Linked DNA regions of Homo sapiens: region 2 is linked to region 1. Evidence: fine-mapped expression QTL. Tissue or cell type: whole blood. Region 1 holds a variant in brackets; the other region holds the start of a gene. All regions are shown on one strand. Distances are between the middles of the regions.

Region 1 (8,257 bases):
CCGCCGTTCCGGGCCCCTCCTTCCAACGGCCACGTGCGGCCTGCGCGTGCGCACTCGCCCAGTTTGGCGCCCACCAGGCAGTGGGGAAGGGGAAGGGGAAGGGGAAGAGGGTGAGGGTGGCAGGGTGGGGACAGGGAATGGGAAGCAGTGGTGGGGATGTGGGTGGTGGACCAGGGGCGAGGGCAGGGGACAATGTCTGTGGAGAAGGGGGGTCTGTTTAGGTTTCCGCTCTTGGACGGGAGGGAGCGGCGGGGTAAGCAGCCTAGGAGGACTAGGGAGCTCCACAAGTCCCGCGGCCAGGGCGCCCCAAGCGAGGCCGGGGTCCGCGAACGGTCGCCACTGGAGCGGGGCTGCAAGGGGGTGCCGATGCTGCGAGAGAAAACCTGGGGACCTTGGAACGGGCTCATGGTAATTGGGAAGAGAGTGGAGCTCCTGACTAGAAACACTCGAAAGCCGAAGCTGGAGTCTGAGTACTGGAGACTGGAAGATGTGGAAAAGACGGTCTTGAAAGGGAAGTCAGGCCCGAGTCAGGAAAGGATGGATGTGAAGCTGCTATACCGTGGAGCAAGTGCATCACAAGCTTCAGCAGATTTGGGGAAAGACAGCCCAAGGGGTATTTGGGGAAAGCAAGAGGTCAAACACGAAATAAAGGCTAAATCTAAGAGTGCAGGGATGACAGCAGGGCCTATGAAGGGGTCTGGGTTTGAAGAGAGGTTGAGGTCTGCTGGGGAGAAGGTAGGGACCAGTGGAGAGGACTTGAGATCCAATGGATATAAACTGGGACAGGATGAGAAGGGGTTGAGGTCTAGTGTAGACAAGATGAGATCAAGTGTAGAGAAGCTGAGGTCTACTAGTGAGAAGCTGGTGTGCAGGGGAGAGAAGCAGGGGTCCAGTGGAGTGAAGCTGAGGTCCAGTGGCAGAAAGCTGAGATCAAGTGGAGAGAATTTGAGATCAAGTAGAGAGAAGCTGAGATGGAGTGGAGAGAAGCTGGGAACTAGTGGAGAGAAGCTGGGAACCAGTGATGAGAAGCTGAGGTTGAGTGGAGAGATGCTGAGATCAATCAGAGAGAAGCTGAGGTTGAGTGGAGAGAAGCTGGGAACCAGTGATGAGAAGCTGAGGTTGAGTGGAGAGAAGCTGAGGTTGAGTGGAGAGAAGCTGAGATCAAGCAGAGAGAAGCTGAGGTTGAGTGGAGAGAAGCTGGGAACCAGTGATGAGAAGCTGAGGTTGAGTGGAGAGAAGCTAAGATCAAGCAGAGAGAAGCTGAGGTTGAGTGGAGAGAAGCTAAGATCAAGCAGAGAGAAGCTGAGATTGAGTGGAGAGAAGCTGGGAACAAGTGATGAGAAGCTGAGGTTGAGTGGAGAGAAGCTGAGATCAAGCAGAGAGAAGCTGGGAACCAGTGGAGAGAAGCTGAGATCAAGCAGAGAGAAGCTGAGGTTGAGTGGAGAGAAGCTGGGGTCAAGTGCGGAGAAGCTGAGATCTAGTGAGGAGAAGTTAGGGACCAGCGGGGAGAAATTGGAGGGTTCAAGAATGGGGAGCATAAATGAGAAGAACATTGAAAAAGTGGTAGAAGTTACTGGCGATGAAAGAGTGATGGCATTTACTCATGATGAGATGGAAATTCCTTTTGAAAGTGTCAAAGGGAGTGAGGAACTACAAGGGACTGAGAAAGGAGTGGGAGTTGAGGGGGGCATCTTGAGTGAAGTGAAAGATATCACTGATGAATCTGTTTCTATGGAAAAAAAAGATATTATAGGTGAAGGTACCAGTGAATGAGGCAGATGAAGGATTGACACCAAAGAAGGAAAGAGGCAGACAGGAGAAGTACTGAAAGTCAGAGGAGAAATTAGAGCCAGACAGAACATTATTGACACTGAAGGGGTAAAGTTGAGAAAGGAAAGGAGAGAGTCTGAGCCTAAAATAAAAGAGAGTGGAAGTGAGGAAAAGAGCTTCTGGGGCTGAAGGCGGAGGCCAGGATCAAAGGAAGCAAAGAGGAGTCTCTGGTTCAGAGGGAAGTGGGAACATATGGAGGAGAAAGAGAAGACTTGGTAATGTGTTGACAGAGGACACTTGGATATTGGGAGAAAAGGTGTGACTGGGAGCTCATAGGGAAATGTTTGAGAAAAGGATGGAGGATGGGCTAGAAGGATTTAGTCTGACACTAAATGGGGTCTATGAGATGGAGAATTGCAGCAGGATAAAGGGTAGATTTTGAGAGTTGTGGAAGAAGGTGCAGACTGAAGTGGGCAAAATTTCTGAAAGAGGAGCCTGAAGAATGAAGGGCTCCCAAGTGACAAAAGCAAGAGAGGAGATAAGAAAGAAGTGAGAAAAAACATAAGAAGCCACGTGCCATAATGGTGATTGTGTTTGTTGGTATGTCCTTCATTATTTCCTTTTCTTTTCTTTTCTTTTCTTTCTTTCTTTCTTTCTTTTTCTTTTTTCTTTTTTTTTTTTGAGACAGTCTTGCTCTGTTGCCCAGGTTGGAGTGTGCAGTGGCGCAATCTCGGCTCACTGCAACCTCTGCCTCCCAGGCTCAAGCGATTCTCCTGTCTCAGCCTCCCAAGTAGCTGGGATTACAGACATGTGCCACCATGCCTGGCTAATTCCCTCACTATCTTCTAACTTCCAAGTATTGCTATTTATAAGTCTTTTTGTTCTTTTCTTTTAATTCTATAGATAGTGTTTTTTTCTATGTAAATTACCTGTTTGCTACCACTCCCTAACTCAACCTGTATCCTCACCCCATTTTCTCTGGCCTTACTAGAGGATGTTAGACCTTGAATTATAGCTGTTATCTTTTTTTCTCCTTTTGCCCGTCTCTTTTTATTGTATTCTCTGGGCAATTTCATTAACTTTAAAACAATTGATGTATAGTAGATGTACGTATTTTGGGGGTACCTGTAATATTTTGATACATTCATATAATGTGTAAAGATCAAATCAGGGCAATTGGGATATCCATCATCTTAAATATTTATCTTTTCTTTATGCCAGGAACATTCGAATCATTCTCTTCTAGTGATTTTGAAATGTACAATAGATTATTGTTAACTACAGTCACCCTACTGATCTATAGAACACTGGGTCCCATTTCTTCCATCTAACTGTACATTTCTACTCATTAACATGTCTTTATTTCCTCCACCCTTCCTGGCCTCCAGTAACCACCAATCTCATCTCTATTTTCATGAGATCCACTTTCAACTTTATTAACTGTATCTTTCTTTCTTATTGAAATTTTACATTTTAACTCTCTTGTTCATTGATTGCTTTTTTTTTTTTTTTTGAGATGGAGTCTGGAGTCTTGCTCTGTCACCCAGGCTGGAGTGTAATGGCGTGATCTTGGCTCACTGCAACCTCCGCCTCCCCGGTTCAAGCAATTCTCCTGACTTAGCCTCCTGTGCTCACTGCATGAGCTGGGATTACAGGAATGCATCACCACACCCGGCTAATTTTTTGTATTTTTAGTAGAAACGGGGTTCCACCATGTTGGTCAGGCTGGTTTTGAACTCCTGACCTCAGGTGATCCACCCATCTTGGCCTCCCAAAGTGCTGGGATTACAGGCGTGAGCCACCGAGCCCGGCCGTGCTTCTTTTTTTATATATAGTATTTCTGTTCTTGTTTCATGAGTCTGTTCTCTTAGCTCTCCAAGGATTTTTCCAGTTTTTAAGTTTTCTTCTGCTTTTCTTATTGTTTCCCCTGAGTTCCCCTCCCCTGCTTCCCCCCGCTCCATTTTTTTTGTGTGTGTATTGTTGGAAGTTTTCCTCAAATGTTTGATCTTCGGCTGTCCATATTTAAGAATGAGGCATTAAGCAGAGGCAATTGGAAGCACAATTTGGGGCTTGTTGATCTATGGGCTTCACTCTGTGGCGACTGAAGCAAGCAGGATATTTTACTGGGTACACCCAAATATCAGAATCTGTAAATCTCACTGAAGGGACCGTCTGGTTTCTACAGAGAATTCTCCAATCTGTCTGGGGGATATCTGCATGGCCCCTGCTATAGAGGTTACAGCAGCAGGGTCAGGGGAGACGGTTGTGGAGCCACCGCTTGGTACATATGTTTTTACCCAGTCCCTTGTTTTCAGCTCAGTGCTCACTCCACCTTCAGCTGTGCCTGGTGTCCCTGAGTTGGTGCTTCTCAGATTCAGTTTCCCCAAAGAGTAAACCCTCTGCTGTGCTATGGGAGTTGGTGCCCAGCTAAAAAAGGTTGGGGAGGGGATTTGTAAGCTTAACTGCTTTATATACAGACTCCTAAATAATTTCTCTGTTCTCAGCTCTATGCCTTTTTCCTTCCATCTGAGCTATCTGGTCCCTCCATGTCCTGAACTTTTTTGGGGATAAGTAGAGTGAACTGTTAACTTTTCGTTTCTATTATCTTTAAGCACTTAAGTGCCAGCTGCCTCCACTCTGCCAAGTTGGTTACCACTCCATCTCCAAACTTTTTTTTTTTTTGTCATTGTTGTTGTTTTTGAAATAGGGTCTCACTCTGTCACTCAGGCTGGAGTGCAGTGGCATGATCATGGCTCACTGCAGCCTCAACCTTCTAGGCTGAAGCAATCTCCTCAGCCTCCCAAGTAGCTGGGACTACAGGTGTACACCACCACAAGAGACTAGTTTTTTTTTTTTTTTAAGTAGAGATGAGGTCTCTCTATGTTGCCCAGGCAGGTCTTGAACTTCTGGGCTCAAGCGATCCTCCTGCCTCTACCCGAAAGTGCTGAGATTACCGACATGAGCCACTGCACCCCGCCAACTTTTCCCATCTTAAAAAACAAAAACAAAAAACTTCTCTGTACCCTACATTTCCCTCTAGTACTGTCCCATTTTTCTTGCTCCTTAAGGTAGGCACAAAAGTGGTCC[G/A]CCAAAGATATATTCACTTCCTAATCCCAGGAACCTGTGAATATTACCTTAATATGGCAAAAGATGTAATTAAGTTAAAGATCTTGAGAGAAGGGCCCACTTTAGAGGTGGGTCGTAAATGCCATTACAAGTGTCCTTGTAAGAGAGAGGAAGAGAAGGAGAACAGACACACAGAGAGGAGGAGGCAGTGTGATCTCCCAGGCACAGGCTGGAGTTATGCAGCTACGAGTCAAGGAGTGCCGATGGTCGCCTGAAGTTGGAAGAGGCACAGAATGGATTCTTCCCCAGAGTCTCTGTAGAGAGTGTGGCCTCCGCCAACACCTTGGTTTTAGCATCTGACCTCTAGAGCTGTGAGAGAATAAACCTCTATTGTTTTAAGCCATCAGTTGCTGGTAATTATTATTATTTTTTTTGAGACAGAGTCTCACACTGTTGCCCAGGCTGGAGTGCAGTGGCGCGATCTCGGCTCACTGCAAGCTCCACCTTCTGGGTTCATGCCATTCTCCTGCCTCAGCCTCCCCAGTAGCTGGGACTACAGGCGCCCGCCACCATCCCCGGCTAATTTTTATATTTATTAGTAGAGACGAGGTTTCTCCATGTTGGCCAGGCTGGTCTCGAACTCCTGACCTTGTGATGTGCCCGCCTCAGCCTCCCAAAGTGCTGGGATTACAGGCATGAGCCACCACGCCCAGCCGTAGTTCGTTCATCTGTCTGCTATAGTTCCTGTAGTTCTGTAGTTCCAGTTCCTGGAAGTTGAGGCTAGAGGCCCTGGCTTCTCTTTCTCCATCACGTTCATCACCTTCTGACTCAGAACTTTCCTACTGTAGCTGTTTACATCTATCTGTCCTCACTAGGATGTAAATGAGCTCTATGAGGGCAGCAATATGTGTCAGTCTGGTTACCCTCTCTAGTCCAGTGTGTAACCAGCCCATAGTAGCACTCAGCATGTGTCTGCAGAATAAATCAACCCATCATATTCAGTGACTTCATCAGTCTCAGTACTATTTAATATCTATTGAGAAATTGCTATAATAATTTACCCTGTTTCTTAGAATGTCACATTTTTTGAAACCTCAAAAGCCTGAAACTGTCTTTGTTCCATACTTGTACTTGAGGTTTTTCTGGATATAGAGTTTCCCTCAGCAGCCTGAAGATGTGCGCCTTTGTTTTCTTCCTTTCTGCATGGCCATTGAGAGTCCAGATCTATTTCTAAGCTGAGCCAGTTGCACAACCAGGCGTTCTGTGTATGAGATCTGTTTGCTTCTCCCCAGCTCCGCTATTTCTCCTTCTTTATTGGGCAGAAGCTGATAGCTTGCTCTTTCATTTTCTAGGAACTCTGATCCCATTGTTAGACAATAAAGTGGAGATATTAATAGGGAGTGGGCAGAGTTGTAAAGATAAGCTATAGATGGCTCAAGCCTCATGGTAGGATCTTCTTGACAAATGATTATAATAGCTAACATTTACTGAATTCTTGTAATAATCAGGGTAATTTAATCAGCACCATGCTAAGCACTTTACATGTTCTCTATAATTTAGTCCAATAGCTCTTTGAGATAGGAACTATTACTCTATCGACTCTACCCAGTAGACACTGCCAGAGCCAGGCACAGAGTCCAGGCAGCCTGACTCCAGAGCTGAGCTGGAAACCGCTCTGTCTGCTGAATGGCCTCCTCTATTCCTACCAGACAAGCCCTGAACCTTGGCTTCCTCACCTGCCAAAGCAAGGCCTGGGATCCTGAATGGGGGTAGGGAATGAGGCTGTGCAGCAACCCCTCCATTCATTCGGCGCATACTTACTGGATGAGCGCTTCAGTGGCAAGTATTTAAGAATATAAATGTTGGTGGGGTGCGGTAGCTCACACCTGTACTCTCAGCACTTTGGGAGGCCGAGGCGGGCGGATCACCTGAGGTCAAGAGTTTAAGACCAGCCTGGCCAACATGGTGAAACCCCGTCTCTACTAAAAATACAAAAATTAGCCAGATGTGGTGGCTCACGCCTGTAATCCCAGCTACTTGGGAGGCTGAGGCACAAGAATCACTTGAATCCTGGAGGTGGAGGTTGCAGTGAGCTGAGATCGCGCCACTGCACTCCAACCTTAGTGACAGAGTGAGACTCTGTCTCCAAAAATAATAATAATAATTGTGTGTGTATATATATATAAATGTCAAAAAACAATGACGTTTATTTTCTTTCCTAGATCTCTGCCATCCCGAGATCATCACTCCTAGCCTCCTCTGGAAACTCTCTGAGAGTTGGGGAATTGTCTCTTTTATAAGAGGCCTACACAGGCACGAGGTCATACTTGGGCAGTTTTCGGCTTTGTGAAAATCTCTCAGATTGCACCGCACAGTATACAACTGATGAACCAGACAACCACAATCGTTCTTTGGATTGCATTTTCTCCTGAGATATCAGACGCATTTCACCAGGGCCACAGAAAGAAAAATGAAGACCAAGATACCGTGACAAATGCCAACTACCTCATAAGTGCAGATATTTTCAGTTATCTAGGTAGCTAGAGCTTTGCATAGGTAATACCCTTTTCTACTAAAATTAACCAAAACACACACATTCCAGGGCTCCTGAGTGATTTTTATATATATATATATATATATATATATATATATGTATATTTAAGTATATATACATATATGTATGTATAATTATATGTATATGTATACATTTATATATGTATATAACATATATATATTTTAAATATATATATATCGTGTGTGTGTGTGTGTGTGTGTGTGTGTGTGTGTGTGTGTGTGTGTGTATATATATATATATATATATATATATATATATATATATATATATATATATATATATATAAAACAGAGATGGGGGTCTCACTATGTTGCCCAAGCTGGTCTCAAACTCCTGGGCTCAAGCCTAGATGATTTTTTTTTTTTTTTTGTGAGACGGAGTCTCGCTCTGCCACCCAGGCTGGAGTGCAGTGGCACAATCTCGGCTCACTGCAAGCTCCTCCTCCCGGGTTCACGCCATTCTCCTGCCTCAGCCTCCCAAGTAGCTGGGACTACAGGCGCCCACCACCATGCCTAGCTAATTTTTTGTATTTTTCATTAGAGATGGGGTTTCACTGTGTTAGCCAGAATGGTCTCGATCTCCTGACCTTGTGATCCGCCTGCCTTGGCCTCCCAAAGTGTTGGGATTACAGGCGTGAGCCACCACGCCCGGCCAAGCATGGACGATTTTTAAAATTTTTATAATTTTATTCTTTGTATAGTCCCAGCCTTGTTTCTTGTAACAGAATGTGTTAAAGTAACATTAACTTTTGGTTGGGTGCCGTGGCTCATGCCTGTAATCCTAGCACTTTGGGAGGCTGAGGCGGGCAGATCACTGGAGGTCAGGCATTTGAGAACAGCCTGGCCA
Region 2 (8,000 bases), 28 kb before region 1:
TTAAAAGCCAAGGGCTCCCAGGAGAGTACGGAGGCTCCACCTGGGGGAGGTGGGGGATCACCGACCCCTTTCCGAGGCGCTCACCGCCCGATGTTCGGTGCCGCTGCAGCCGCTCGTCCAGCATCCGGCAGAGCCCGTCTCCGAAGTGCTGTAGGATCTTAGCTTCCTTCCCGCTGCGCAGCGGCAGTGGGTACCGTCGGAGGGAACGCAGCGCCTGGCCGGGCAGGGGTAGGGTACCTGGTCAGGGCAGGCCTGACCTGGCCAGCAGCTTTTCCCATCGGGCCACGCCAGGACCCACCTTCTGAAATACGAAGCGCGTGCGGCGCCTGCTGCGGGTCGCCTCGTCCCGCCACTCGGTCAGCCAGCGAACGAAGAGCGGGTTGGGACAGGCAGGCAGCGGGCGCTTCCGGCCCAGGCGGACCGGGGCCGCCATGAGCCCGAGGGCGGGTCCTCCGGCGCTCCACGCCCGCGGGACTGGGACGCCGCCAGTTCTGGAGTCGGGATTCGAACACCTGGCCCAGGGCGGGGCGGGGGAAGAGGGAGACCGAGGGCAGGACCGTTGAGATCACGGGGCCCCAAACACAGGGGGCACTAACGAGAGGAGAGCCTGCGGCCGCCCTCCCACCCCTGCGCTGCTCTAAGTGGTTGGTCAGGGGCGCTGTCTCTAACGATCTTTTCCCTTGGCTCCACTCCAGCCAGCCTTTGAGACGCGCCCTTTCCCAGCCCCCGGAGCCTGGACCGGCTCCTTCCTGTCACCCCAGATTCGAGAGCGGGGTCTTTGTGTAGGCGAGAGGAAGGCGGACAGCGCCCCCTGTGACGGGGAGGACTGGCTGGGCGGCGCTTAACGGACTAACCTGAGCTTGGCGGCTCTAAGGTCTCTTAAGATTGTCAGCTTCAGCCTCAAGCTTGAAGGAGGCTGGAGATGGAGACTGGTCTTGAAAAGAGTCCAGGAGAGGCGGGGGCTAGGAGACAAACGGGTGCAAACGTATTGGTGGGAGGGACACCCAGAAATGGGTGCCGGGGATGAGGACACAAAGGTAAGGCAGGAGGAGCTGCAGGACCCTTGGAGGAAATGGTGATCCTCATCCCCGGGATACAGGGCAAAGAGTGTGTGGTGGAGAGGAAGTCGGGGACGTGCCGAGAAGGCCCAAAATAGAACTCGGAATGTCGGGGGTCAGAGGCCTAGAGGAAGGAGGACTGTAAGTAAGAGGTGCTTGGGCATCCTGGCAGTTGGGGAGGCCTGAGATGGGCACGCGGTTGGGTTTGGGAGCGGAGGAGCAGGCTGCGGGTTAAGAAGCCCAGACACAGGTAGAGGGGAGAACACTTCGTCATTTTTGTGGCTAATCGGAAGTGGGAGACCCTCAGGGAGGTTGAAGATGGAAACCCTACAAAGGGCTTCAACCTGAGAAGCCTGAAAGACACGTATAGCTGAGTTGGACACAGGCGACCCGCCAGGGTTTGAAGCAGCACCCGGCCTCTAGCTGCTATGCCGGAAGTCGCAACACGCAGGTCTCCAGCCTGCGAGGAAGGGAGAGGTGGGCGCCAGAGCTCCAGTCCCGCCCCTCAGGACTGTGCCTAGCCCACGGCGCAGTAGCCCCAGCCAAGCTAAATTGGACCAATGGGCTCCGGCTCCCGCCTCCCGCCCGCCGCGGCCTTATAAGGAGCCTCAAGCCGGCTGTCGGGCTGGCCCCGCCCCCTCGAGTCTCTTGTCCTAATAAGGACATCTAGGGCATCCCGCGGCTGGGGGCGGGCGAGAGCGCGTCTCCAGGGTAACTGCGAAGCCCCCCTCTCTCTCCCCGTTGCTCTTGGAAACTCTAAGGCTCAGAAAAGGGGGCGCTAGCCTCATATTCATGTAGGGTCGCTCGCGGGAGGCGGGGTCAAGCTGCTGTCTCCACCTGGAGCGCCGGGAGTCCGGGCGGGGGCGGTGCTGTGGAATGTCCCCGACTACAACCCCCGGTATGCTCTGCAAGGTACCCCACTCCCAGGCATCGCTCTCCGTTTACACCCTTAATTCCGTTTATAGGATTAGGGCCCCCAGTTCCCTTTCTGGGTTTGCCTCTGACTTGTTTGCGACCCAGTCTTTTCCTGCAGAGTGTGAGGCTGTGGTCACTGTTCTAGAACAACAAAATCATCCCGGAGTCCCCCGCTCGTTTCTTTTTTTTTTTAAGGCATATACTACCACAGAACTTGTCTCAGTTTTGCGGATGTTAGAATAACCATGTACCTGGCTATCAACTCGAGAGCTGGGTTCAAGTCTGGTTTAATATCTATTTCTTCTCATTGGCACGTAAAGGCATGTAAAGAAGCCTTGAATTGAATGCACAAACCCTCGTCTTTACCCTTTAACGCCTCATGACTTTGCCAAACATCTTTAAACAAGAACAAAGCTCTCAGAGATTTCCTTGTACCTTTCCCCTGTGCCTTTTCCTCCTATTCTTGTTTTACTGACGTTGGACATGGCCTTTTTTCAGGAGACGAGAGTGGCTTTACACATGCAGAGTACTAGTGTTTATCCGACTGACGACGCCTTCATACTTGTGATTTCCTTTGCTTTAGGTCGGGATTCCAGGCTAATCAATAGTTGCTTCGATTCAGAAATGCAAAACCCTAACCTCACTCAAAAATTTCAGGCCAAGGGATCCAGATAATACCAGATGGGTCTTAAGAAAGCCGTTTTGCTGTGGGATAAAGAGCCGCTTAGTCGGGGATCGTTTTCGGGTCATTTTACTGAGCGCCGCCTCGCCGGGCTCAGAGCGGTTCCTGGGAAATTGGACCAATGGGCTCGCGCTGCGCGCTGCGGTGCCGCCCAGGACCTGGGCCTACATTTCCCTACATGCACTGCAGCTCGGAGCCGGCCGGCGGGAAGACTCCGTTACCCAGCGAGCGAGGCGGCGGCGCAGGGCCAGCGGACTCCATTTCCCGTCGGCTCGCGGTGGGAGCGCCGGAAGCCCGCCCCACCCCTCATTGTGCGGCTCCTACTAAACGGAAGGGGCCGGGAGAGGCCGCGTTCAGTCGGGTCCCGGCAGCGGCTGCAGCGCTCTCGTCTTCTGCGGCTCTCGGTGCCCTCTCCTTTTCGTTTCCGGAAACATGGTGAGCGGCAGGCCACGGCGCCTGAGGGAGGCGGCTGCGGGTCGGTCGCCTGCGCGCGGGAAGCGACTGGGGAGCGACGTCCGCACCCCCTCCCCCAGCGCCCCGGGCGGGATGAGGGTCTCGCACGAAGGGGCGGGCGGTGCCGGAATGCGCGTGCGCGCCCGTGGGCGCCGGGGAGGGCCGGTCTGGACGTCGCTCGCGCTCCGCCTGGGCTCCCCTCCCCCACCCGCTGGTGCGCCCGCGCGGACACCGGCCGCGGGGGGAGGGGTTCGGGGCGCGCGCTGGGGCGCCCCTCGCGGAACGGCCGGCGTCGCGCCTTTCTTCTTAGGGGCGCGCTCTCGACTGGAGCATGCGGCGTCCAAACCCGGCCCGGGGGCGGCGAGGAAAAAGCGCGCGAGAGGTCTCGGCGCGCGCGCCCCACCCAAGGCTGTTCCTGTCTGCGCGTCACCCTCCCTCGGCAGCCGGGTCCGTCTCGGGAGCAGGTGGCAGGGATGCCTGCGCCCGGGAGGGGCGGGTGCTGGCGCGGCGAGGGGTGATGCTGGGAAGACGGGGTCCCGGTTGGGGCGTGGGTGCCTGCGATTAAGGCCTTGCACCGCAAGGCTTGGAGGGGGCATCGCAGAGACCGCGGCCCGTTCGGGAGCGCATCTAACGAGCTGCGTTCTCACCCGTGCATCGGGCGAGGGCTGGAACGGCGCTGTCTGTCGGCGCGTGCGCGCACGCTCAGGCCCGGCCGCCGGTGCCGAAGCCCTGGGCCAGCGAGGCCTTCCCGGATGGGCCTGAGTGAGGGTGGAGCCGAGTTTAGGGAAGTGACCCAGGCGGGCACCGCCCGGAAACCACCCCGCCCCCTGTATACGGCCCGAGGGCTGAGAAAACCGAAGGTTATGTAGCTTGCCCAGGCTCCTGCCTGCAGGAGATGGGTCTGATACACCCGTTGTTTTAGGGCGATTCCACAGGGTTAGGGACCTGGAGATGCTGCTGCCTCTCGGATACGCGTTTCTGCATTGGTGAGGGGGCCGGGCCCAGCCGATCTCCTGTCCCCGCCCACTCCGGATGCGGCCGAGTCACGTGGCCGGCTTCTTCTGCAGTTCCGGGGAGTTTGGGGGACCAGATTTACCTTGGATTGCCCCTCCCTCTCCTGGCTCGGGCACCCCGAAGCACGACGCAGAGTAGGAAGAGTTTAAAGACCTCGAGGCCTCTGGGCACTTGAGTTTGGCATGTTAATTTTTATCAGCGACTTCTGGGGCCTAGCACCATTCCCGGAAGAAGGGAGTTGTCGGGCAGGGTCCTTAATGGGGGTTGCAATTCTTGTCTTGGTTGGGAAAGAGCCTAGCTGGGAACAGGGGTCGTTTGTGTAGTAACTGTATTAAGCAGTTCTGGTGGGTTTGTTGTAACTGTTCGGTGTCCTTGGGGTCCCATCTAGCATTGTGGGGTCTTGGCTCTTTCTGAAGAGGAGTCTTGGCTCAGGTGTTTGGGTCCTCCATATCCGAAGTTCTAAATCACCAGTTTTATCCAAAGGCTGAGAGCAAGTACTGTGAGTAGCAAATGAGTCAGTAGCCGGTGGATCTTTTAATTCTGGGTTCACATTTTGGTCAAGGTTCTGCTTTTCACGAGTTTTGCATTTCTATCCTGTAAAATGAGGGAAGGGGTTGTTGAACTAGGTGATCAGAGGCCATGGCTGCCATTCTGAGGTTGTGTCCCATCTGGTTCTTTGACAGTGACTTGGGTGGGAAAACTAGTGACTTGCCTTGGGAAGGGCACTAGTGACCACTCGGGACGTGGACTGAGATCTTCTGAAAAAACAAGGGGCAGTTCCCTAGAATCCTTTTCTTGACGTATACGTGGCATGTCTCCTAGGCCTCCGGTGTGGCTGTCTCTGATGGTGTCATCAAGGTGTTCAACGACATGAAGGTGCGTAAGTCTTCAACGCCAGAGGAGGTGAAGAAGCGCAAGAAGGCGGTGCTCTTCTGCCTGAGTGAGGACAAGAAGAACATCATCCTGGAGGAGGGCAAGGAGATCCTGGTGGGCGATGTGGGCCAGACTGTCGACGACCCCTACGCCACCTTTGTCAAGATGCTGCCAGATAAGGACTGCCGCTATGCCCTCTATGATGCAACCTATGAGACCAAGGAGAGCAAGAAGGAGGATCTGGTGTTTATCTTCTGGTGAGCTCATTCTGGCACTTCTTCCTGTCACCTGCCCCCTTTCTCATGATGGGAACTTCTGTGGCTCCTGGTCAACCCAGATGTGTGGGTTTGGAGGGGGAGGGGGTTGTAACAAAAGACTCCTCACTGCCAGCCCAAGGGTTTCTCAAAGTCACCTGTGGCTTTGCTGTTGCTGGGAGTTGCCTGACGCGTGTTTCTGTCCAGGGCCCCCGAGTCTGCGCCCCTTAAGAGCAAAATGATTTATGCCAGCTCCAAGGACGCCATCAAGAAGAAGCTGACAGGTAAGGGCCAGCATTGGTGCTGAGTGCCCTTCTGCTCTGGCCTTGGCTGCAGGGCAGGGTGAATGGCACGCAGAGGGGGTCTGCCCCCTTGTCTTCGCTGCCTGCTTGTTCCTTCCATCTGCTTTGATTGGCTCCTTCCCAGCCACAGAAACTACCCCCACCCCAGTGCTTCCTGCTCACAGATGCTCCCCTTTCTTCTTTATAGGGATCAAGCATGAATTGCAAGCAAACTGCTACGAGGAGGTCAAGGACCGCTGCACCCTGGCAGAGAAGCTGGGGGGCAGTGCCGTCATCTCCCTGGAGGGCAAGCCTTTGTGAGCCCCTTCTGGCCCCCTGCCTGGAGCATCTGGCAGCCCCACACCTGCCCTTGGGGGTTGCAGGCTGCCCCCTTCCTGCCAGACCGGAGGGGCTGGGGGGATCCCAGCAGGGGGAGGGCAATCCCTTCACCCCAGTTGCCAAACAGACCCCCCACCCCCTGGATTTTCCTTCTCCCTCCATCCCTTGACGGTTCTGGCCTTCCCAAACTGCTTTTGATCTTTTGATTCCTCTTGGGCTGAAGCAGACCAAGTTCCCCCCAGGCACCCCAGTTGTGGGGGAGCCTGTATTTTTTTTAACAACATCCCCATTCCCCACCTGGTCCTCCCCCTTCCCATGCTGCCAACTTCTAACCGCAATAGTGACTCTGTGCTTGTCTGTTTAGTTCTGTGTATAAATGGAATGTTGTGGAGATGACCCCTCCCTGTGCCGGCTGGTTCCTCTCCCTTTTCCCCTGGTCACGGCTACTCATGGAAGCAGGACCAGTAAGGGACCTTCGATTAAAAAAAAAAAAGACAATAATAAAAAGGCTCATTAATGGGATGTGTTTTTCAAGGTTGGGACACAGGAGACTTCAGGATTGGGGGTGCACTGGGATAATGGTGCTATCTCTCTCCTCTGTACTCCACACCCAACCAGCCCCTGCACACCCTTATCTGGCTCCAATGACTGGCTGAGACGCCTTTCTGATGGTCACCATTATTCTGTTGGTGCTGTGATTGACACTGGACTGGCTGTTTAAGGAGTGGGTGCTGGCTACAGGGGTCTTCCAGCGGAAGTGATTTATGCCTGAACTGGGTGCTCTGTAGCCTTGCCTGGATGGACAGTGAGGTCCATCTGATATTCTGTTCTGTCCCTTTCTAGGTGTGGGCTGATAGGCAAGTCAGAGGTAGCTCAAAGGTTCTGTTTGGTCTGCTGTCTTCCCTGGATGGCTGACTCAAGTTTATGAGGGTCAGGTTCAGTGGCTGCTGTGAGTCAGGCCAAGTTGAGCCTTTGACCTCCTCTAGATGTGGCTGGAGTGCATTCAGGGTGGGGCCAGCCAGGTGGAGCCCGGGACTTCAGACCCCGGTGTCTTGAGCACTGCCTCCCTGTGTTTAACCAAAAGGGTGTTGCCGGTACCCTGAGCCTTTTGCCAGCATTGTCAAGGGCTGTTTCCAGCCTGTACTTTGGGCTTTTTCCTGCCCAGCAGGCAAAGACATACAAGAAATCTGGCCCTAGGGTGAGGTGAACTGGGAGTGGTAATGTGGCATCTATATTTCCCTTATCAACTGAACTGAGGAAGAGTCCTCCTGGTGTTACAGTTGGCTCCATAACTCCTGGGAACTTGTGAGCGGTTCTGGGAGGAAGGGCTAGATCCCTTTTCTGGTTAGGAAATAGGTGTGGAGAACTTGGGATTCATTTTTGTGCTAGGGTTTATGGGGGTAGGGGCAAACCTGGAAGACTTCTGGGGTTCCTAGGTCCCAGCTTCTGGGTGTCGCGCCTTCCCACAGGGAGCCTGCTGTCACTGGAGAGAGGGCTGAGGATGCTGCAGGGGTGCCCTCCTTGGTGTCTCCAGGATCTGATCATACTGCCTTGGCAGAAAGTGTGCCTGGTGGACCTTTGAGCTGTGGGAAGGGAAGTAAGGACAACAGGCCTCCTTGCTACAAAACCAGGGTTTTTATTTGCGAAGGAGAACAGGCCGGGATCAAGTGAGCTATGATTCCTTCAGGGCTATGGGTGAGGGTAGAGGCTGTTCCTCAGCTTCCTGGGGAGAGGTGTCAGGGTCCCTGGGGCTCTGCTGACTGTGGCCAGTTATGATGCCCATGCTGCCCTGTGTCTTGCAGGGCCTGGCACCTGTGGTGGTGGTGATAGGGGGTTTGGGCTTTCCCTGAGAGGATGTGGGGCAGAGTGAGGGTGTGGCTAGTGGCACTGCTAGGGAAGGAGACATCTTGCCGGAGAGAGGGGTCTGGGATACCCTGGTCACTGGAGATCCCAGATTAGGGTCTGGCTGAGCTCTGGCTACTCTAAGGCTCCCCCTTTAGGGCAACAAGGGTGTTCCGGAGAATCAGGGTGCTGGCCTGCAGAGGAGAAACAGGTCCTTGAAGTCCCCTGCTCCCTGAGTCAGGCTGCCATTCTTTCTGCACCTTAGATGCTCCCTCGCTCCCCACACCCC

The links. PIP is the estimated chance that this variant, and not a neighbour inherited with it, causes the effect.
Region 2: CFL1 starts here. The variant in region 1 is fine-mapped to the expression of CFL1 in whole blood (TOPMed, PIP above 0.99).

Annotation. Positions count from the first base shown.
Region 1 is chr11:65,825,411-65,833,667 of GRCh38, reverse strand. LOC124902693 reads left to right here. Exons shown (of 7, transcript XM_047427980.1): 1 at 1-2,370; 2 at 7,059-7,392. The coding sequence starts at 157. The coding sequence ends at 1,773. Among named protein-coding and RNA genes, the nearest start is that of SNX32, 4.4 kb to the left of the region's middle. RefSeq lists silencers at 24-153, 5,516-5,810. The variant G/A (reference allele first, on the strand shown) is at 4,858.
Region 2 is chr11:65,853,187-65,861,186 of GRCh38, reverse strand. It overlaps CFL1 (cofilin 1), which reads left to right and starts at 3,007. Exons shown (of 4, transcript NM_005507.3): 1 at 3,007-3,090; 2 at 4,945-5,252; 3 at 5,457-5,533; 4 at 5,739-6,514. The coding sequence starts at 3,088. The coding sequence ends at 5,851. It overlaps SNX32 (sorting nexin 32), which reads right to left. Exons shown (of 13, transcript NM_152760.3): 13 at 7,486-7,905. The coding sequence ends at 7,852. It overlaps MUS81 (MUS81 structure-specific endonuclease subunit), which reads right to left and starts at 754. Exons shown (of 16, transcript NM_025128.5): 1 at 299-754; 2 at 85-214. The coding sequence starts at 433. RefSeq lists silencers at 82-171, 342-501, 1,552-1,631, 3,042-3,441 and enhancers at 192-731, 1,012-1,101, 1,232-1,281, 1,802-1,891, 2,452-2,521 and 2 more.